Linked DNA regions of Homo sapiens: regions 1, 2, 4, 5, 6 and 7 are each reported to be linked to region 3. Evidence: microRNA targets listed by miRTarBase, many of them from high-throughput screens and not tested one by one. Region 3 holds a microRNA gene; each other region holds the end of a gene's coding sequence. Distances are from middle to middle.
The links. Region 3 holds the annotated microRNA hsa-miR-5010-3p (UUUUGUGUCUCCCAUUCCCCAG, at 1,292-1,313, opposite strand). A microRNA usually pairs through its seed, bases 2 to 8, with sites in the 3' UTR of a target mRNA and lowers its output. Matches are read on the target gene's strand: a 7mer-m8 pairs with bases 2 to 8, a 7mer-A1 pairs with bases 2 to 7 and ends in A, and an 8mer does both.

Region 1 (3,093 bases), 6.5 Mb from region 3:
TCCTCCTGCCTCAGCCTCCTGAGCAGCTGGGACCATAGGCCCAGGCCACCATGCTCGGCTAATTTTTTTTTTTTTTTTGTATTTTTGGTAGAAGTGGGGTTTCGCCATGCTGCCCAGGCTGGTCTCGAACTCCTGGCCTCAAGTGATCCGCCCACCTCAGACTCTGGAAGTGCTGGGATTACAGGCGTTAGCCACCTTGCCCAGCCCCTGTTATGTCTATTTTAACACACATACATCCATCATCCCCCGCCAAGAACTGACCTAAACCAATAAGTTATTCCTGAGGTGCTAAATTGCCACCATGGCCCTTTAGGAATTTTTTTTTTAAATTGAGATGGAGTCTCGCTCTGTTGCCCAGGCTGGAGTGTAGTGGCATGATCTCAGCTCACTGCAACCTCTGCCTCCTGGGTTCAAGCGATTCTCATGCCTCAGCCATCTGAGTGGTTGGGATTACAGGCGACCACCACCATGCTCAGCTAATTTTTGTATTTTTAGTAGAGATGGGCCATGTTGTCCAGGCTGGTCTCAAGACTCCTGGCCTCAAGTGATCTGCCCGCCTTGGCCTCCCAAAGAACTGGGATTACAAGTGTGAGCCATCGCGCCTGGCCTAGAAATTTTTTTAAAGGAAAGATGCTGGGACATCTCATGGAACTGAAAGACCAGCTGAAGCTCCCAGCCTGGAGCTGGGGCAGGAAGTGAGGCAGTTCCAGGGACCTCAGGACAGAAGTTCATAGACCTCTTTCCTTGGGACACTGCCAGAAACTCACTTCTGCTCTAGCAGCAACCAGACTGAGTTTCTCAGGTCCAAATTTCAAATCTCTCTGAGAGTCTGATTGGCCAGCTAGATGAGATGGCCATCCTGGGAAGATGAGCTTGGGCTGGGGAGGCAGCTCGTTTTTTTTTTTTTTTTTTTTTTGAGACAAGAGTCTCTCTCTGTCGCCCAGGCTGGAGTGCAGTGGCACGAACTCGGCTCACTGCAAGCTCCGCCTCCTGGGTTCATGCCATTCTCCTGCCTCAGCCTCCCGAGTAGCTGGGACTACAGGCGCCCGCCACCACGCCCGGCTAATTTTTTTGTATTTTTAGTAGAGACAGGGTTTCACCGTGTTAGCCAGGATGGGCTCGATCTCCTGAGCTCGTGATCTGCCCCCCTCGGCCTCCCAAAGTGCTGGGATTACAGGCGTGAGCCACCGCGCCGGCCAAGGGAGGAGGCTCGGGTTTTAACAACATGGCCACTGGGGGGCAGTTATGAGTCAGTTTACCAGAATCCAATTCATTGGCCCGTTTTCAGCTTGACACTTCACTGCATTTATTTGTTTCTCTTAACCATCCGGTCTTAATTACCTGTCTTAACCATCCGGTCTTAATTACCTGGCTTTTGTTTTGTCTTCACAACAGCGTTTTGGGAGAATGTTGAATCCAAGCGAGCTGAGTCAGCTGTCTGCTGTTAAGCTGGAGACAGAGGGGAAGATTGAATATAAATGGCCCCCAACCTTGACAAAAGTCTCAAGAAATGTGGAGAAGCCCCTGAAAAAAACTGAGATTAAGCTTCTTTCACCCTAGCAGAAAAAAAAGCAGGAGGTTAGGAATCAAGCTGTCAAATAAGGGAGTTTTATTTATTGCATGTTTGGGTTTTGGACTAAGAGTTTACCCCTAGCCGTGTCTCATACCCTTTCTTTCCCTGTCCTGCAAAGCTTAACATGGGAGGTAGAGATTTGTGTCTCTTCTTCTTCTTCTTCTCTCTCTCTCTCTTTTTTTTTTTTTTCCAATCAGGCACTCTCTGTACCCCTGCCACCCTGAGGAAGACAAAATATGAGAGGATCTAGCAAAGTCTCTGCAAAAATGATTAATGTGAATATTCCCATCCGGACTTCCTATGAAAAAGTTGCATTATAAAATGAAAGAATAATTGAAGAAAATATAGATCCAGAAAAATCCATAAAGATGGACAGGAAAAATCAAGAGTTCTATGGGGCTCTTAATGGGTCAAGACCCAGAGGGCAAAGATCATCTGGAAGGCTGGAAACTGGCTAAGTATTTAGAATGGCTTGTGTACTGGTGTGAAGTGAGGAATTGAAAGAGAGCAGGAGAAGGATGTGAAATATATTTTTCTGTGTATTAAGAGTGCACTGGCCGGATGTGGTGGCTCACGCCTGTAATCCCAGCACTTTTGGAAGGCTGAGGCAGGTGGATTGCTTGGGCACACGAGTTTGAGACCAGCCTGGGCAACATGGTAGAATCCCGTCTCTACCAAAAATACAAAAATTAGCCAGGTGTGGTGGCGCAAGCCTGTAGTCCCAGCTACTCGGGAGGCTGGGGTGGGAGGATCACTTGAGCCTGGGAGGTGGAGGTTACAGTGAGCCAAGATCAAGTGAGCCAAGATCACACCACTGCACTCCAGCCTGGGTGACAGAGTAAGACCCTATCTCAAAAAAATAAAAATATAAATATAAAAATAAAAGAGCGTACCTCTGCCCACGTCCCTTAACTTTGGTATTTCCTCCTAAGATTGAGAAAATATTCGAAATACTTCTCCTTTATTTTGATCATTGTTCTGCTTCTCTCAATGTGACTGGCTAGTTTCAGCCTAATAAGGCTTCCCCTGTTTTCATAGGTTTACCCCTCTCTTCTGTAAACAAGGGCTTCCACTAAAGCCTGGTCATCACTGGGAGTTGAGGAGCTGGGGTTGACCATTCTTTGCTGTAATAATTTTAACCGTGGACAAGTTCCTGGTAGGCAGCAAAGGTAGGTTGGGATCCTTGATGTACTCTTGGACCCAGTCGTCATTGGGGTTGGTGCAGACTTCTCGGTTCCTCTTGGTGACGAAGCTGCAGAGGCAGAATTAGACCGTCATGGGCTGCAGACTCGGGCAGGAGTCCGGTGCCCACCCCCACCTCTGGTTCACATGGAGCTCACCTTATGTTCTTTAAAGCTTCCCTGGGCCTGTCCTGGCTGGGTTCCCTCAGACAGCCTCTCTCTCTGGCCTCAGAACCTTACCATCCCTTCTCTCAGTCCCTTCTCCACTCAGCCTAGACCCTCAAGCTTGGGTTTCATAATGAACCACATAGCTAAAAGTGGCAAAATTAGGAATTAATC
Region 2 (3,116 bases), not on the chromosome of region 3:
AGATGGAAGAATTGCAGGAAGAAAAAGAATGTGAAAAACCACAAGGGGATGAGGAAGAGGAGGAGGAGGAGGAAGAAGTGGAAGAAGAAGAGGTAGAAGAGGCAGAGAATGAGGGAGAAGAAGCAAAAACTGAAGGTCTGATGAAGGATGACAGGGCTGAAAGTCAAGCAAGCAGCTTAGGACAAAAAGTAGGCGAGAGTAGTGAGCAAGTGTCTGAAGAAAAGACAAATGAAGCCTAATCGTTTTTCTAGAAGGAAAATAAATTCTAATTGATAATGAATTTCGTTCAATATTATCCTTGCTTTTCATGGAAACACAGTAACCTGTATGCTGTGATTCCTGTTCACTACTGTGTAAAGTAAAAACTAAAAAAATACAAAATACAAAACACACACACACACACACACACACACACACACACACACACAAAATAAATCCGGGTGTGCCTGAACCTCAGACCTAGTAATTTTTCATGCAGTTTTCAAAGTTAGGAACAAGTTTGTAACATGCAGCAGATTAGAAAACCTTAATGACTCAGAGAGCAACAATACAAGAGGTTAAAGGAAGCTGATTAATTAGATATGCATCTGGCATTGTTTTATCTTATCAGTATTATCACTCTTATGTTGGTTTATTCTTAAGCTGTACAATTGGGAGAAATTTTATAATTTTTTATTGGTAAACATATGCTAAATCCGCTTCAGTATTTTATTATGTTTTTTAAAATGTGAGAACTTCTGCACTACAAAATTCCCTTCACAGAGAAGTATAATGTAGTTCCAACCCGTGCTAACTACCTTTTATAAATTCAGTCTAGAAGGTAGTAATTTCTAATATTTAGATGTCTTAGTAGAGCGTATTATCATTTAAAGTGTATTGTTAGCCTTAAGAAAGCAGCTGATAGAAGAACTGAAGTTTCTTACTCACGTGGTTTAAAATGGAGTTCAAAAGATTGCCATTGAGTTCTGATTGCAGGGACTAACAATGTTAATCTGATAAGGACAGCAAAATCATCAGAATCAGTGTTTGTGATTGTGTTTGAATATGTGGTAACATATGAAGGATATGACATGAAGCTTTGTATCTCCTTTGGCCTTAAGCAAGACCTGTGTGCTGTAAGTGCCATTTCTCAGTATTTTCAAGGCTCTAACCCGCCTTCATCCAATGTGTGGCCTACAATAACTAGCATTTGTTGATTTGTCTCTTGTATCAAAATTCCCAAATAAAACTTAAAACCACTGACTCTGTCAGAGAAACTGAAACACTGGGACATTTCATCCTTCAATTCCTCGGTATTGATTTTATGTTGATTGATTTTCAGAATTTCTCTACAGAAACGAAAGGGAAATTTTCTAATCTGCTTTATCCATGTACTTGCATTTCAGACATGGACATGCTATTGTTATTTGGCTCATAACTGTTTCCAAATGTTAGTTATTATGGACCCAATTTATTAACAACATTAGCTGATTTTTACCTATCAGTATTATTTTATTTCTTTTAGTTTATAGATCTGTGCAACATTTTTGTACTGTATGTCTTCAAACCTGGCAGTATTAATACCCTTCTTACTGACATATGTACTTTTAGTTTTAGAAAACTTTTATATTTATGTGTCTTATTTTTATATTTCTTTATTTATTACACAGTGTAGTGTATAATACTGTAGTTTGTATTAATACAATAATATATTTTAGTATGAAAATTTGGAAAGTTGATAAGATTTAAAGTAGAGATGCAATTGGTTCTCCTGCATTGAGATTTGATTTAACAGTGTTATGTTAACATTTATACTTGCCTTGGACTGTAGAACAGAACTTAAATGGGAATGTATTAGTTTTACAACTACAATCAAGTCATTTTACCTTTACCCAGTTTTTAATATAAAACTTAAATTTTGAAATTCACTGTGTGACTAATAGCATGATGCTCTGCAGTTTTATTAAGAAATCAGCCTAACCATACAACTCTCATTTCCTTAGTAAGCCAAATTAGGATTAACTTCTATAAACAGTGTTGGGAACAATGTTTAACATTTTGTGCCAATTTGTTCCTGTATTCATGTATGTAAGTTACAGATCTGACTCTTCATTTTTAAGTTCCTTGTTACATCATGGTCATTTTCTAGTTTTTTACCAGACTCCCATCTCACAATAAAATGCATCAACAAGCCTGAACTGCTGTCATTCTTTTCATCATTATCAGTATTTTCTTTGGAAAACTGTGAAATGGGGTACATTGTCATCCTGCATTTGATTCATCTTGAGCTGAATTTGGGTAACACTAAATGTTTTAGACATTCTCCACTAAATTATGGATTTTCTTGTGGCTAAATGTTTCTGGAGAGGTCAGAGTTGACAAAACCTCTTCACAGGTTGCTCCTTCTTCCTGAAATCCTTAATCCTCCGCATTTCATGCTTCAGGTCATTTCAGGGAAGCCTGGGTTTAGATGCCTTTCTGACTCTCAGCTCCTGCACTTCTGTCATCATACCTCTGATACTATTATTTATATTCCTTCCCCACTAGGAACAGGAACCACATTTGTCATAGTCACTCTCACATTCCTCACTGCCTAACAGGGTGCCTGGCATAAGTTGGGACAACAGATATTTGTTGAATAAAAATATAATTTGCATGTTTATGGAGCTCAGCTATGTTCTCACTTTTTTTGCTTCTAATTCCAGAATATATGTTAAATGATCTAATAATTTGATTATTTTCTTATAAGTCTTATTAAACACTAGTCATAATAGACACAATAAATTATGCCTTCTTTTTCTATTGCCTTACTATTTTGATTTTTTGAAAGTGTATTTCTAGGTGTCTTCCTGGTGCTTAACCTCATGGTATATGGCACAGGTATTGCTGGCTTGTGGACATGACTACCTCCAATAGGAGCGATAGGACTGATCCTAGTCAGCTCTCCTTTGTAGAATTCACTTCCCTTTCTAGGACCCCATATTCGTAGGTGCTCGTTACCATGTTGCCTGATTTCCCCTGTCACTGAGAGCAGCTACCAATAAACAGACTGACTGAAAAGGATTAGGAACTAAGAATAAGATACTCTTCTTAGGAGGTATCCACAATGTAATATAAAGTTCAATGAGGGCAGTGCT
Region 3 (3,000 bases):
TCCCCACCTCAGGTGATCCACCCGCCTCGGCCTCCCAAAGTGCTGGGATTACAGGAGTGAACCACCGTGCCTGGCCCCCAACCCCTCCCCTATTTTTTTTTTTTTTTTTTTGAGACAGAGTCTCGCTCTGTTGCCCAGGCTGGAGTGCAGTGGCACAATCTCAGCTCACTGCAACCCCTGCCTCCTGGGTTTAAGAGATTCTTTCCTGCCTCAGCCTCCTGAGTAGCTGGGATTACAGGCACGTGCCACCACACCTGGCTAATTTTTGTATATTTAGTAGAGACGGGGTTTTACCATGTTGGCCAGGCTGGTCTCGAATTCCTGACCTCAGGTGATTCACCTGCCTTAGCCTCCCAAAGTGCTAGGATTACAGGCATGAGCCACCGTGCCCAGCCAAACTGTACTTTTATGTGCTACATCTGGCAACGCTGGTTTGAGGTGGTCACAGCCCAGACCACACCCCCGCTCTCCCAGTCCCAGAGGCTGAACTCATGCTCTCTCCACACACAGCCATTAAGAGTCACAAGCTTCATTAAAGAAAACAAACAGAACCACCCCAAACCTGCCCATGTGAAGAAGCTGCGTGAGTGTACCGACCTCCACCCTATAGAGCCAGGAATCCCTCCGGTCCACAATGGAGCTGCCAGGGGTCCAACTCAAAGACCCCTGGCACAATGACAGAACAAAGAGGATAAAGCTGGGGTGCAGCGTGTTCTAGCCTTTCCTGCACTTAACATACATTCCAGAGCTGCTTCCACTGTTCTGAAGACAGAAGAGTTACACATCAGAGAGAAAACCAGAAACCCTAAGACCCCAGCAGCCCCTTTAAGCCAAAATCAGGAGCACTGGGGACAGCTAAAGGCAGGGAGCGGGACCTGACACCACTCACCAGGGACATCTCCCTAGAGCCTAGGGAAGGCTGAGCTGTGCTTTTCTGTGACCATTTTCCGAAACTCTGTGGCAATGCCGGTGCTGGGGTGTCCTGAGGTGAAGCTAGTGCAGGGCCAGCTCATCTTTCCTGCACAGAGCTGCAGGGCTGTGTGTGGGAGAAAAGCTGCCCTCTCACCGCAGCTAAGGACACATCCACCCCCATGCCCGCCCTGCCCCACTGCCCCTCACCAGTGTAAGCGCAGTGCGTGGAGAAAGGCCGAGAGGCCCTCCATGATCAGGAGGATGGCCACGGTCAGGGTGGCAAAGGCAGTGAAGAAGAAGAACAGCACCAAACCTCCCGCCAAGCTCTTCACGCTCAGGCCGATGTGGATCACCATGGTCCAAAGCACCTCAGACAGCTCTGGGGAATGGGAGACACAAAATCCAGTGCAGTTTGGCAAGAGGCAGCTGTAGGCCATGAATTTTGCTCTGCCATCCCCCTGCTCTAGGGTTCCCTGGATCCTGGCTTCCCACTGCCTTAGTGGGACCACCATGCAGAGCTAACCTGGCACAAGTGCTGAGCCTCCTGTCTGTACTCATTCTCCTTGGGTTCAGGAACCTGAATAATTCCAGAACCTTCATGTAATTTCCATTTGACTTAAGCCCCCCAACTGACAGTGCGCCCACAGAGGGGGAAACTAGAGTTCCGGAGCCCGGAGAGAGGTACTCACGCGCATGAGCGAGGCTGAGGGCCCAGAGCCGCAAGTAGGAGGCAGTGTTGGAGATGCAGCCCAGGCAGTACTCGATGGTGTGGATGGCCTGGTGGACCATGGTGTCCCCAAAGTCAAACTGTCGTGGGAGGAAACCAGAGAGAAGATATAAGGCTAGGAGGGGAACGTGCAGGCATTCTGAGTTGTGGCTACTTGGCGCTTTGAACCTGGGCCAGGGCAGGGGACTGCACTTCCCATGGATGGCACCTCAACTCTGGAGGGGCCAGAAGCACCCAGTGTTGAGCTCAGGTGGTGATTTCGGCAATGCCTTCCCCAAAAATCCTGCCTGACTTAGCCCTCACCTGGGACACCTCCATTCCCCTCAATACATTACATTTTAATTAACTACATCTTAATAAGATTCTTTTCAACACATTTGTTCTTCTCCCTCTGGGGCTCTGTGCTCAAGAGAGGAGTGTGTGCTGAGTTGACGGCACTCTGTTGAGAAAGTGACTGTCTGGGTCTGGGACCCTAAGGACCTGCAGGAGGGCAGGAAGGGATTTTCCCCAGAGTGCGCTTCAGGAGACAGACTCTCAACCCGGACACTGTCCTGAGAAGACTAGGCCTCTATGGCCACTTTACTTATTCTTTTTACAGCCTTTTGGGAGCAAGATAACCTTCTTTTTCTTTTGTGACTTCTAAAGAGATTACACGGTGAATTTTTTTTTCCCTACATGATTTCACCACCATGCACAGGGAAATCCTGACAAAGTTTACAAATTTCCACATGGGTTAAGGCCAAACAGCATATCTGTTTGGGTTAAGACTAAATAGCATATCTCCAGTTTCTTGTTTGTTTTCGTTTTCCTCAAGCTCCCTTTGTCCCAGTTTTCCTTTCAATACCAAGAATTATTTCCAGAATAAAGGAATGGGCTGGAACAAGCTCTTGGGAGTGAACTTTCAGGTTTGCTCCAAGCACAGTCAGGGGTGAATGTGGGCTTCTGAATTTGGTATATTCTGGAAGCCCCAGGTACTTTCCCTGGGCCTCTCTGTCAAGCTGACCAAAGACCAGGAGGCGCTCCCTTATGGGGCTTCCCCCCGCAGAGCCCAGACCAGAATCTTCTGAGCTTTCAGACACTCCTGAGGGCTCAGTGGCCTCCCCATCGGCCCCTGCCCTCAGGTCAGGGTCTATTTTTCACCGCAGTTCCTTTCAAAACCCACGTGATTCCACTCCCAAAGGACACCAGAAATGCCTTGGGAAATCACTGAGAACATGGGGATGGGAGAAAGTGGCTTGGCTGGTAAAGCCACAACAGCCCAGGCCACAGGGGTGCAGCCAGCGTGGAGGGGGCTGGCTCCACCATGCCATCTCTGGGCGAACGTCTGCTTCTCCCTCACCTCTGTCGACACCTAGCCTATT
Region 4 (3,116 bases), not on the chromosome of region 3:
TATCCAGAAGTTTGCATCTCTTTGTTATCTTTTTTTGTTATTCTATTATGTTCATAGTATATTAAGTAATGTACAGTTGCACCTTCTCTAATACATAATTATGTAAAGTCCAAAGCATTGATGACCATTTTGAATTTTCAGAAACTGTATGTTTTCTCACATGGGAACAAGAACAAACCAGAAATATAAAATAGAATGAGAGTTTCATGAAAGAAAAGGATTTAGCCCACATTTCCCCTTACCACTAAAGAATTCACACACCACACACTTCTCACTACCTTTAACTCTTAGTTCTGTTAAGAAGTTTTCCCACACTCCAGTTTCAAGAAGTTTTCTCTATTATTTGTTGCTTTGGTTCACTGAAGAATTCAGTGTTTATGTTTTTTTACAGAATTATCAATTGTTTTGAATCAAAATAGAAAATTGATTCAAAATTGTTTTGAATCAATTGTTTTGAATCAAAATAGAACGCTGAAGGGTATAAGAATAACATTACTACTTGAGAATTAAGTAGTACTTAAGGGACACAAACTAAGAATACACATGCAAGATTTATATAACTGTCAAACAGTTGCTATTGGAAGCCACAGCTACCACAAAAGGTAGTGAAAGAAGCATCATTTTATCCTAAAAGGAAGTCGTCTATGTGTTCCTTATGCATTTGTAGAATACCAGTTGCACCAGTAATATTGGCATGTCATTTGGTTATTGCTGTCTCACCAAACCTGCTCCACAAGAATAAGTGGGGATACTTCACATAAACCATACATAGCTGCTGCAAAGAGATTGTCATCACAATCCTTCAATCACCTTGCTTTTCAAAATTTTTTTTAATAGTTAACTAAGTTAGGAAAAAGTTACCATCTTCATCAAATACTTAAAATTGTAAAGCAAAATATATGGAATAGAAAATGGCATTCGTTCACGTCAGACACTTGTGATGATAAAGTATGGTACTCTGTGAGTGGACTGATGACCAAGGCAGATGTGTACAGATGCTAAACTGTTGGGAAAATGCTGCTTATGAGACATCTCTGCTTCTTGAGACCTGAATCTGCAAATGTTGAGCACTGTACCTTACAAAAGCCAACAGTTTCTTGGCACAGAGTGTAAAAGTTTCATGGGTTAGAATGTTGGTGAAATTGTACACTCAGTACCTGAATTTAAACTTTAGGAGCTCAGTATGTATATTAACCACTTTCCTTCTCAAGGGATGCCATTCCTTTCTTCATTCATGAGGAATTTTCAAAATCAGGATTGTGATTCCAAGGCAATCGATATCTCCATTTAAGGAGCTTTCTGCATCCACTTTATTTAGCCAGAGAGGGAAGGGGTTGACATAAACGAAAAAGTGGATCAAATAGTCAAGAACATGATGGGCGCGGCAATGAACTGAACCACTTTTGCTAAGTGACAGAAAAATATTCTAATATTAAGGATTATTTTACAACTCTATGGAAGTAATGCAGTGATGCATCTTGCATCTGTTTTGCCTTGATGACAAAACGCACTCTTAGAGTCACAAGATCCTGCCTTGTGTTAGTTATAAACAAAAATATATTTATATATATATATTTATGTAACTACTATGTGCTTTAAAGAAAATTACTGTATGATTCAGCAGGGTTTTTTCATTCTTTCTATCGCCATGCTGACGTGAATGGCTTCTTAGACAGGAATCAGCAATGAAATGGGTGTTTAGTACTGAAAAGGCATAAAATTAAAAATAATCATATGTTTAAAATCCCTTAACATTTTTGTTTCAAAAATGATTAAGGAACTCTTCATACTGTTTCCTTTTGTTTCCATCAGCCCAGAGCAACTGTGGTTTCATGGGACTTAACAGTTGGGGATTGGAGGTAAGGCTTCCATAAAGCATAAATCAGATGTTTTCATGCTGAGGCAGGAAAACAGAAAGCCCCGTTTGCCACCCCCTCTTCCCAAATCCTTAGTTAATTGTTCGGAAATTTTGTCACAGCTCATAGAAAGGTCATTCATTACAAAGGAAGAGGCAGACATGGTTTGAACCTCCTGTACGGATAAAAAGATTCGTTCTGTAAAGTGATGAACTTGTTGGTACAGATGGATCTAGACCAGAAAAACAACATCCTTTTGCCACACATCTGTTTTGAAAATGTAGAAAATCTCTTATTTTGTGTTTGTTCTCACTCTTGCATGGGCTGTTTTTCTTAGCAATCTTGAGACATTCATCATTGCTCTTTTGAGTGAAAGGGTTCAGGCTTTGGAAAACAGTTATCTTTGAGACATCAGAGAACATTTGAACCAAAGGTGTCGATCCCTCATGAACTAAAGCTTTATTATGATTTTTTTTTTCTGATCCCTTTGCAACCCTGCACCTAAGCCAAAAGCATTATAATCTTGTCATACTTCAGATAAGTCCACGGGAGATGTTCCGAGTGAACTATAGATGACATTCCACTAGGGAATTCTATGTTCAGTGTAAATGGTATCTTGTATAAGTTTTAGTTTTTTGTTTACCCTTTGTTTCCTGGGCTGAGCTTGTCCAGAAATCTTGTCTTCTTCAGGCTACAGCAGCTTAGAGCTTGTTTGTGTGTGTGTTTGTTTGTTTGTCTTAAAGGTATAGGCAAAATTTTAGTCTTAACACCTGTAAACCAGTACTGGTGTTGTTCTGTCCTAGAAATTTTAGCACTGCTCTGATACAATAAAGCCTTCTTTCTCTCCAACTGGTTCAACTTCAGCATAGGCAGGATGTCCAGAGCCTCTTCTAAACTTCATCGCAGGCCATCTGCTTGGGCGTCTCTGAAACAGAAAACACAAAAATAAAAAATGTGCGTCAGGGTAAGATTCTAGCACCAGAAAAATCTATTTGCTAGCTATTTTAGATTAAATGTTGAATTAATTAACACATTAAATTATCTCTTATTATAGCTACAGTCAGAATTAAGAATTCCCCTTATCAACCCTCCAAGCCCTGTGCTTGCATTTCCAAGATGGCGCTATCTACCCCTGTCACAGGAAAGACCATTTGTCACACCTGCCCTCAAAGGATTCAGAGCTTCTCCCAAGCAAGGTTTAATGCCTTATGCATATGTCTGAAATGCTCAAATATAACTAGGCAAAAAGGAACTGTAATA
Region 5 (3,000 bases), not on the chromosome of region 3:
ACTTCAAACCTGTGTAGTTCATGGGTCAACTGTATACTCTAAAACTGCTATTTAAAATTTAAAAATCAAGTTGTGACCATAAAGTATTCTCTTTTGGGAACTGAGTGAATGAATTCTGAATCTGGCAGTGGAAATGAATATGATGCATTGCATTACGTGGCTTCAGCACTAAATAATTTTTCCCACTTTTCCCTTCCGCACAGATCGAAAGCTGCTTTGCGTCGCAGTTGGAGCAGCACCCCCACCGCAGGTGGCATTGAAGGGAGCGTGAAGCTGCACGAGGGGTCTCAGGTCCTGCTCACGAGCTCCAATGAGATGGGTACTGTTAGGTATGTGGGCCCCACTGACTTTGCTTCAGGTATCTGGCTTGGACTTGAGCTCCGAAGCGCCAAGGGAAAAAATGATGGGTCAGTGGGTGACAAGCGCTATTTCACCTGTAAGCCGAACCATGGAGTCTTAGTTCGACCGAGCAGAGTGACCTATCGGGGAATTAATGGGTCAAAACTTGTGGATGAGAATTGTTAAGCTTCTAAAATATTAAATAAGCTCAAATATATATATTTGGTGTAAATAAAGAGTCCATGGTAAATGGTTTACTTTATTTAGCCATATTAAAATTTTGAAAATATAGTTATCTTCTTAAAAACCATTATAACAATTCAGAGAGAGTTCTTTACAAAGCCATGAATATGAACTATGGGGAATCATGGTTCTTTTAAAGCAATTTTCAAAATAAGTACCAATTAAAGCTTTAGGTTCCAAGAAGATTCTGGGACTCAGGAAGAAAAAGTGCCATCAGGTGACCAGCTGTTGCATTTCTTGCTTATTCTGTTTTGTTTTTGCACATCATAATGGATTTTTCTTAGTGCCCTAATTGTGAAGGGTTTCTCTAGCTTTGGTTATGTGTAATGTTCACGTGACCTTTTTTTGTCAATCATTTTTGGAATTTTTCTTTCTTTCTGTGCTTTATTACTAATAAGTCCAATGAGTGAGTAGTAGCTAGATGACTAGTATGTAGTTTTATATTTTGGTAAAATTATTTGCCCTTTCAGAAATGCCTCATCTAAAGATACATGATAATTTTGGAGTTGGAAGGGGCCTTAGAGGCTCTCCAGCTCTGCTTCTTGCCCATTGCCAAATACTGAAATGGAAGCCCGTCTTACCTGGGGTCACTAACTGGTTGGTTAACTGAGCTAAGAATAGACTGTGGGTCTCCTCACTTGTGGCCCAGTGCTCTTTCTGCTATACAAAATGTCTAATCTCAGATTTTTCTTCTGCTGCTTGACTGCTTCATCTGGATGAACTACAAAAAACCCATGATTAAGGTTTATGAATTCAAGTAATAATTAGATTTTTTTTGCACAGACTTACTTAACTTCCTTATTGGATATGTTTGTAACACATAAACACAAAGCACTTTTCAAACATGATGCACTTTTATCTTTGTGAATAATTTACTGTCCTTTCCTCCTGGGATATGAGAAACATTTTAAAAAACGTATTTAACAGAAGAGAGCAAATAAAGATATATCAGGAAGGATGTATTAGTTATTTACTTAAATGTTTATAATATCTGGATTTTTTTTGTTTTGTTACTCATAGAACTGGTGTTGTTTGCTGTTTTTATTTCTCTAATTGTTGCAGAGTTCTGCCTGTTACAAAGCTACAGAACTGTATTGTTTTTATTTTCCTTCTTGAGCACATGTTAACAAACTAAGCTTCACATTAGAGTGATGTCATAATGTAAAATGTTTGCATTGTGGTTAGGTATTGAAGTTTATGTCCTGTCTGTGTAAAGATTCATCTTTTATTGTAAATATTTAGACTTTACCACAGAAATATTGGAACAGTTTGCTTTATAAGATTAAAAAGCATCCTTCAGAATGGAGCTTGCCTTGTGCTTAGAAATAATATGTTGAACTATTTTGCAATATACTATTTTAAATCTAAATTCTGTCACTTCGCTGCCTTTTTAAAATAGTGTGGTATTTCAAATATTGCTAGAGCTATTTTCCTGAAATACATTTGCAAAATAAGGCTGCTTTGTAATCAAGGAATATTTTTATTGATTGAAGGAAATGACTGTACTGCGATTCAAAAGTAAACTTATTTTATTATACAGATTATTTCTTAAAAACTCTATTTATACCTTAACATGAAATCCATGACCACACCAAACTTGGTTATTCATAATTTTTCCTGTTAAATATAAAACACTGTAAGTTAAAAACAGTAATGCCAACATTGAATTTATTTTTGAGGTCAAAGAACCAGTTGTTCTCTTTATATTTAGATGAGGATGATTGAGTCCATATACTATGTATGTTTACATATACTATACATGCACATTAGGTGTTTTCATTTGTGTTTTGCTTATGAAATGTCATTTAAAGTTCACTTCTTGAGCATCAATAAAAAGGGAAGCTGTGTGGTTTTGGAATGGTATCTTGTCATTTACCCTATTTGCAACTCTGCTTTTCTCAGTAACTCAGGGTGCATATGCTTTGAACTTTTTCCTCACGGTAATGGCTTGGATTTGTCCTGTCCCTATAAAGAGTATTAAAAAGTATCATGCTTTCTACTCAACAGTCTATGTTCATAGCCACCATCCTATTAGTATTGTTTTGATGAATAGTGAGTCATTTAAGAAAAGAACGTATTTCTACAGTTGGGATTTCACTTGTTTATTTAGGGTAGGATGGAACACTTTGAATTTAGATTAAAAAATAGAAATAATTAGCTGCCTTTTACTAAAAAACTTTGTTTTTATATTTAGGGTGATTTGGGGGGAATATTTTTAAGTATGTAAGAATGTTGAGTACTGCTGTTTGCTAACTGTGAACTCTGGTGTTGTAATCTTGTTGTGAGTCTCTGGCACCTCCTCCCAAGAGCTCCTTGTTTCCCTCTCATGTTTTATTTTTCTCTTTAGCATTTGGTCATGCTTATTACTGATTACAACTTCTTGCTTATTATTTCTTTCTTCCTTCACGAGATTGAGGA
Region 6 (3,116 bases), not on the chromosome of region 3:
AGTGTTCTCAGGTTCTGGCAGGGCTGCAGGAAAGGCTGTCAGCTGCGCTGAGATTGTCAAGCGGCGGGTCCCAGGCCTGCACCAGCTCACCAAGCTACGTTTCCTTCAGACTGAGGACAGCTGGGTCCCAGCCTCACCTGACACAGGGCTAGACCCCCTCACAGTGCGCCGCCATGTGCCTGCAGTGTGGGTGCTGCTCAGCCGGGACCCCCTGGACCCCAATGAGTGTGGTTACCAACCCCCAGGAGCACCCCCTGGCCTGGGTTCCATGCCCAGCTCCAGCTGTGGCCCTCGTTCCCGAAGAAGGGCTCGAGACACCCGATCGTGAAGACCTGCTGAGCCAGCCTGTTCTCCGGGCCTGAATGTCTGGGGTGCTTGTGCCTTTTCTGAGAAGCGTTGTGACTGCTCAACATCCCCATCAAGGTTTGAGTCCACAAAAGTGGACCTCCCTATCATGCTTCCCCTTCCCTCTAGCATGTGGGAAGGGACTGCTGTGAAGAATGACAGATGTGGGGCCTCTGCCAAGTTCTGCATTGCTAAATAAGGGCTTCCTCTGCCTTCTACCTACAGTGCATTTGAACTGCCTTCTGAAAGAGGTCCAGGGAGGGATTTAGGAAATAAAGTTTCTACCTATTTGATGAGCCTCTACTCAGCCTGCTATGTGGAGTGGGATTAAAGAAATGGGAGTCCCCGCCCTTACCCCGGGGGGCTGATCGGGTGAAGACAGAGGAAGAGTAGTAGGCTCAGGCCGGTGCTGGGAGAATATAGTGTCTACAAGAAGCCTCAGTCAGTACTGAATATATCTAATTCCCTGGATAGTTATTTGCCCCTGCTTTGGCCTGGTTTAGGAACACTGCCAGGTCAGACATTTCTCTCCATCTGCAGCATACAGTATAGTATAGTGGTTGTGAGCATGGACTCTGGTACCAACCTGCCTGGGTTTCAATCCTGGTCTGCCACTTATTAGCAAGTTACTGCTCTGTGCCTTAGTGGTCTTATCCATAAAACAGGAATACGATAGTGTTTATCACATAGGATTGTTATGAGATTACATAAGGAAATATACATATATGACATTTAGATACCACACTGGCACATAGTGCTATTAAGTGTTAATTGCTATTATCGTTATTAATGACTTACCTATCCCAAATGCAACAACTGTCTCACACCTCCTTCCCTCCAGCTTCCTTGCCCCAATCTCAGCTATGGAGCTGGACTCTGCTTTGAAGAGACAGAGGCCTTTCGAACTCCCTCATGTTCCATCTTCACCTCCAGACCTGTCTGTATACACATTTATCCTCAACTCCACTAGTTTGCAAACATGCTTTTTCCTGTCTTAGAATCATATCTTTGGGTTGGGCACAGTGGCTGATGCCTGTAATCCCAGCACTTTGGGAGGCTGAGGCAGGAGGATTGCTTGATCCCAGGAGTTGGAGACCAGCCTGGGCAACATAGTAGGGAGACCCTGTCTCTACAAAAACATCTAAAAATTAGCTAGGCATAGTGGTGTGCACCTTTAGTCCCAGCTACTTGGGAGGCTGAGGCAAGAGGATCGCTTGAGCCCGGGAGGTTGAGGCTGCAGTGAGCCATGATTGTGCTACTGTACTTCGGCCTGGATGACAGAGTGAGACCCTGTCTCAAAAACAGAAAACAGGCTGGGCGCAGTGGCTCACACCTGTAGTCCCAGCACTTTGGGAGGCCAAGACGAGTGGATCACTTGAGGTCAAGACCAGCCTGGTCAACTTGGTGAAGCCCCATCTCTACTAAAAATACAAGAAATTAGCTGGGCGTGGTGGTGCATGCCTGGAATCCCAGTTACTTGGGAGGCTGAGGCAGGAGAATAGCTTGAACCCAGGAGGAAGAGGTTGCAGTGAGCTGGGATTGCACCACTGCACTCCAGCCTGGGTGACAGAGCAAGACTCTGTCTCAAAAAGACAAAACAGGCCAGGCGCGGTGGCTCAAGCCTGTAATCCCAGCACTTTGGGAGGCCGAGGAGGGCAGATCACGAGGTCAGGAGTTCGAGACCAGCCTGGTCAACATGGTGAAACCCCCTCTCTAGTAAAAATTAAAAAATTAGCTGGGCATGGTGGTGCGCGCCTGTAATCCCAGCTACTTGGGAGGCTGAGGCAGGAGAATCGCTTGAACCCAGGAGGCAGAGGTTGCAGTGAGCCAAGATCACGCCATTGTACTCCAGCCTGGGCAATAGAATGAGGCTCCATCTTAAAAAAAAAAAAAAAAAAAGGCCAGGGGCGGTGGCTCACGCCTGTAATTCCAGCACTTTGGGAGGCCGTAGCGGGCGGAACACAAGGTCAGGAGTTTGAGACCACCCCAACCAATATGGTGAAACCCTGTCTCTACTAAAAATACAAAAAAAAAAAAAACCAGGCGTGGTGGTGGGCACCTGTAATCCCAGCTACGTGGGAGACTGAGGCAGGAGAATTGCTTGAACTCAGGAGGCGGAGGTTGCAGTGAACCGCCACTGCACTTCAGCCTGGGCAATAGAGCGAGACTCCATCTCAGAAAAAAAAAAAAAAAAGCCAGGCATGGTGGCTCATGCCTGTAATCCTAGCACTTTGGGAGGTGGAGGCAGGCGGATCAGGAGGTCAAGAGATCAAGGCCATCCTGGCTAACACGGTGAAACCCTGTCTCTACTAAAATTACAAAAAATTAGCCGGGTGTGGTGGCGGGCGCCTGTAGTCCCAGCTACTCGAGAGGCTGAGGCAGGAGAATGGCGTGAACCCAGGAGGCAGAGCTTGCAGTGAGCCGAGATTGCGCCACTGCACTCCAGCCTGGGCGACAGAGCAAGACTCCATCTCAAAAAAAAAAAACCTCAATCCCACATCTCTCTCCAGGTCTCATCCTTGCCTTTTATTTATTTATTTATTTTTATTTATATATTTTTTGGAGATGGAGTTTTGCTCTTGTTGCCCAGGCTGGAGTGCAATGGCATAATCTCAGCTCACCGCAACCTCCGCCTCCCGGGTTCAAGCGATTCTCCTGCCTCAGCCTCCGGAGTAGCTGGGACTACAGGCATGCGCCACCATGCCCGGCTAATTTTGCATTTTCAGTAGAGACGGGGTTTCTCCATGTAGGCCAGGCTGGTCTCGAACTCC
Region 7 (3,116 bases), not on the chromosome of region 3:
CAACAAAATGCTTCTTAAATGAGTTTCATGAAAGTGGTAACATTGGTTGTCTTGTCTGTAACCACAGCCTTAGTGTCTAGAGTGGTGTCTGATACAAAGTGAGGTACTCAGTAAATATCTGTTCAGTGAAGAAATGGATGAGTCATCTCTTAACAGAGTGAAATAGATTTGAATGTGTGTGTCCTGGTATTTTTTAAAGTTGCATAGCAGTCATTTTGTGTGTGTTTCAAGACTTAGTATTTTTTTTTAATTTTTTTCCCTAGCTTACCTGTGGCCCATACCTGCTTCAATCAACTTTGCCTTCCCCCCTACAAGAGCAAAAAGGATCTGAAACAGAAATTGATCATTGGAATTTCAAATTCAGAAGGTTTTGGACTTGAGTAACCTAGAAGACTTGAAATATAATCTTTTATATGTAGCATTCACTTCCCTCTTACTGTGCCTTTAGCCTTTTCATGTTTCTGTCTCAAAACACTTTGACAAAGCTCACCAACTTTAAAATATTAAGTTTTTAAAAAATCAAATATGAAGTATGTTCAGCAAAGGCATAATTTTCTAAAAACACACACAGAAATCGCTTGAGTGAGGAAAAGTCCACATGGCAGAGACAGGTATGGTCCAGTTCCTCTTTTATATAGCACTTTATCATTCTCCACAAGTAGTTTGTCACAGGCATTCCACTGGGAAAGCAAAGTACAGTGAAGAATGAATTTATGGTATAGTTGAACCCAGTGGCAGATTGTACACTGCTAGCACTGCTAGCACACAGTAGCAAAGCAAACAGCTACATTATCTTTAACATAAGGCATGTAGCCATATTTTCATATAGTGGTATACAACACAGTATCATTGCAAATGCAGTTTACAGGGATTTTTGATATACTGGCTTGGGACCTATAAGATTCTTCTCAGCAGTTGCTGAAAAGCATGTAAATAACTACATAATAGCCTGAGAATAATGGGATTTTGATAGTGCCATTTATTGTTAAAGATTTATTTTTACAAAGTAAATTCAGGGTTTTAGATGTGTACACAGCTTTTACAAATCAATAAAGATGATTGTACAAGAGTATTTTCAGACTAATTGGATTCAAGGTTATATTCTTTTAAGTGTTGTTAGTCTGCATGCACATTGGCAGTAAACTAGTTACTTGTGTACTCTGTAATATTTGTATAATGATCATTTCTTCTTAAGGCTCAAGATATTAGAAAAGAAATCAGACCTAAATAATCATTGATGAAGTATGTCAGTTACAAGCACAAAAGAATATAACTGCTTTTATAAATCTTTTGAATCATGTACAAGACTTATATCTACATTTTTTGATCACCAGTTGTACCAAAACACTAATTTTTGAAAAAGATAGGTTAAAGTATTTGACAAAAGTGAATACAATAATAACACTTGTGTCAAAATGATATAGCTTAGTATAAAAATAAAATTCAACGTTTTGGCCAAAATGTTTGTTTTTCACTGGATTCTGAATATAATAAATTCAAAGTACCCTTTTTTTAGAGTTTCTAATAAAGTAGTATGTAAAAAGAAACTGCATTTTAAGTCAGACAGTAAATGTTTTTTTTAATTTACAGCAAATGAAGCAGTTTTATTAGCATGTTACAAATATTGCCAAACCAAGACTTCTCTACCATACTTTAACAGCTTTCCTTCAGAAAACTCTGAAGTTATATTTGCAATAATAATGAAACCAGCATTTAGTACCAGCATATGGTTCATATGCAAATAATACTTTCCCCAAAATCTTTCTGGGCTAGGCTATTTTCTTGCTATGCTTCCTGCACCCAACCAGCAGAATTCTTCCAGGGTGGAGGAACTAATCAGCTTGTTCTCCAACAGTTCTGAAGCCAACCCACAAATCTTTGAGGAAAAGGGGTCACTTTGTTTACTATTCTCTTGGAGATGGAAGTGATTCTGCTCTTCCATTTGGGTATATTATTTCAAGGGTATTTCTTCTTAAAAATCTTGGAAAGCCTAAGAGAGTTAAAGGCATCCTGGTTTTGTTTCATTTTGCTCTGTTTTAAATCCATATGCAAATAAAACTGCTTCTCTCTTACACTGCTTGAACTAGAAAATCAGCTTTTTAATGTAGGTTACCACTTATAAGCACAAAAGAAACATGTATAAGAAACCAGATTTAAGTGTTTTAAATAAAATGTAAACAGTTTTTATTTGGTAGAGATGACTCATGGAAAAATTGTGTTGGCTTGGTCTGCATGTTTAATGATGTGCTTGTATATCGATTAGCTGTGTCACTTTTAAATAAGAAGTCCACACAAGCAAGCCAAATTTTTAGATGACGAAGTCCATAAATAACTAGAGAATTTTTGTTATCTGTTGTTAAGTTGAAATGTATAATCATTTATCACTAAATTGCACATTGCCTTTATTTATTTGTGCTCTGTTTTTGGTTTACAGTGTAATAATACCTCATTTAAAAAATAAAAACCACTACTGTTACATTTTATTAATTTAAAAAGCTAGAAAATTCATGTAGTTACTTTTTTTACATATATAATCTGTTAATGAATTATTGATTTTTGTATCTGCCACAGTAAATTAAAGCATTACACAGTATTTATCAGTATTTTTTAAACATCCTGTCCTTTTTTAAAATCTTTGCTTAGTCAGTCATATTTTTGTCTGTATGATTAGAAGTTTTTACGTCCTTCCTTTTTTGTACAAATCTGTATTGTATTAATTTCTGGATGCAATTTTTCAAATATTAAAATTATACAGTCAGTCAGGCTTCAGTTTATTTTTTGAACACTTGGGCAATTAATTAAAGCCATATGTTTAAAATATTTTATAAATGCAAGCTATTCTTTGCATTATACTCTCTCAATCTAGTGCTTAGGAAAATTGCTGACACATAACTTCAAAAGATGTATGTTGTTGACATTAAGTATTACCAACCTCTGTAGCATATTTTCAGCATGAAATGTATATCCAATATTTGAAAGATCACACAGCTATTCCACCAAATGAATGTATAATACCATTTGGAGTACACCCAGAAGTGAACCAAGTGTAACATTTCATTGGCCGTAGATAGATAACTTCAGCTCTTAAGTAAGTATTCCTCTCCAAAACCATTCAT

Region 1: the mRNA of CCL16 is a reported target of hsa-miR-5010-3p. Seed matches in the 3' UTR shown: 7mer-m8 at 1,712-1,718.
Region 2: the mRNA of ZEB1 is a reported target of hsa-miR-5010-3p. Seed matches in the 3' UTR shown: 8mer at 424-431.
Region 4: miRTarBase lists PLXDC2 as a target of hsa-miR-5010-3p. Seed matches in the 3' UTR shown: 7mer-m8 at 2,568-2,574 and 8mer at 2,152-2,159.
Region 5: miRTarBase lists CLIP4 as a target of hsa-miR-5010-3p. Seed matches in the 3' UTR shown: 7mer-m8 at 1,407-1,413.
Region 6: miRTarBase lists RPP25L as a target of hsa-miR-5010-3p. Seed matches in the 3' UTR shown: 7mer-A1 at 433-439.
Region 7: the mRNA of HECTD2 is a reported target of hsa-miR-5010-3p. Seed matches in the 3' UTR shown: 7mer-A1 at 1,259-1,265 and 7mer-A1 at 2,124-2,130.

The regions. Positions count from the first base shown.
Region 1 is chr17:35,974,907-35,977,999 of GRCh38, forward strand. It overlaps CCL16 (C-C motif chemokine ligand 16), which reads right to left. Exons shown (of 3, transcript NM_004590.4): 3 at 1,593-2,825. The coding sequence ends at 2,660. Among named protein-coding and RNA genes, the nearest start is that of CCL16, 5.0 kb to the right of the region's middle.
Region 2 is chr10:31,527,026-31,530,141 of GRCh38, forward strand. It overlaps ZEB1 (zinc finger E-box binding homeobox 1), which reads left to right. Exons shown (of 9, transcript NM_001174096.2): 9 at 1-2,779. The coding sequence ends at 239. Among named protein-coding and RNA genes, the nearest start is that of MACORIS, 180 kb to the right of the region's middle.
Region 3 is chr17:42,512,580-42,515,579 of GRCh38, reverse strand. It overlaps MIR5010 (microRNA 5010), which reads right to left and starts at 1,392; the gene lies at 1,273-1,392. It overlaps ATP6V0A1 (ATPase H+ transporting V0 subunit a1), which reads right to left. Exons shown (of 22, transcript NM_001130021.3): 20 at 1,602-1,719; 21 at 1,120-1,291.
Region 4 is chr10:20,279,368-20,282,483 of GRCh38, reverse strand. PLXDC2 (plexin domain containing 2) reads right to left here. Exons shown (of 14, transcript NM_032812.9): 14 at 1-2,781. The coding sequence ends at 2,665. Among named protein-coding and RNA genes, the nearest start is that of MIR4675, 270 kb to the left of the region's middle.
Region 5 is chr2:29,181,369-29,184,368 of GRCh38, forward strand. CLIP4 (CAP-Gly domain containing linker protein family member 4) reads left to right here. Exons shown (of 16, transcript NM_024692.6): 16 at 204-2,440. The coding sequence ends at 525. Among named protein-coding and RNA genes, the nearest start is that of CLIP4, 67 kb to the left of the region's middle.
Region 6 is chr9:34,608,017-34,611,132 of GRCh38, reverse strand. It overlaps RPP25L (ribonuclease P/MRP subunit p25 like), which reads left to right. Exons shown (of 2, transcript NM_148178.3): 2 at 1-638. The coding sequence ends at 328. Among named protein-coding and RNA genes, the nearest start is that of RPP25L, 2.5 kb to the left of the region's middle. RefSeq lists an enhancer at 1-118.
Region 7 is chr10:91,512,001-91,515,116 of GRCh38, forward strand. It overlaps HECTD2 (HECT domain E3 ubiquitin protein ligase 2), which reads left to right. Exons shown (of 21, transcript NM_182765.6): 21 at 264-2,820. The coding sequence ends at 384. The region is part of intron 3 of HECTD2-AS1 (HECTD2 antisense RNA 1); the gene reads right to left. Among named protein-coding and RNA genes, the nearest start is that of HECTD2-AS1, 98 kb to the right of the region's middle.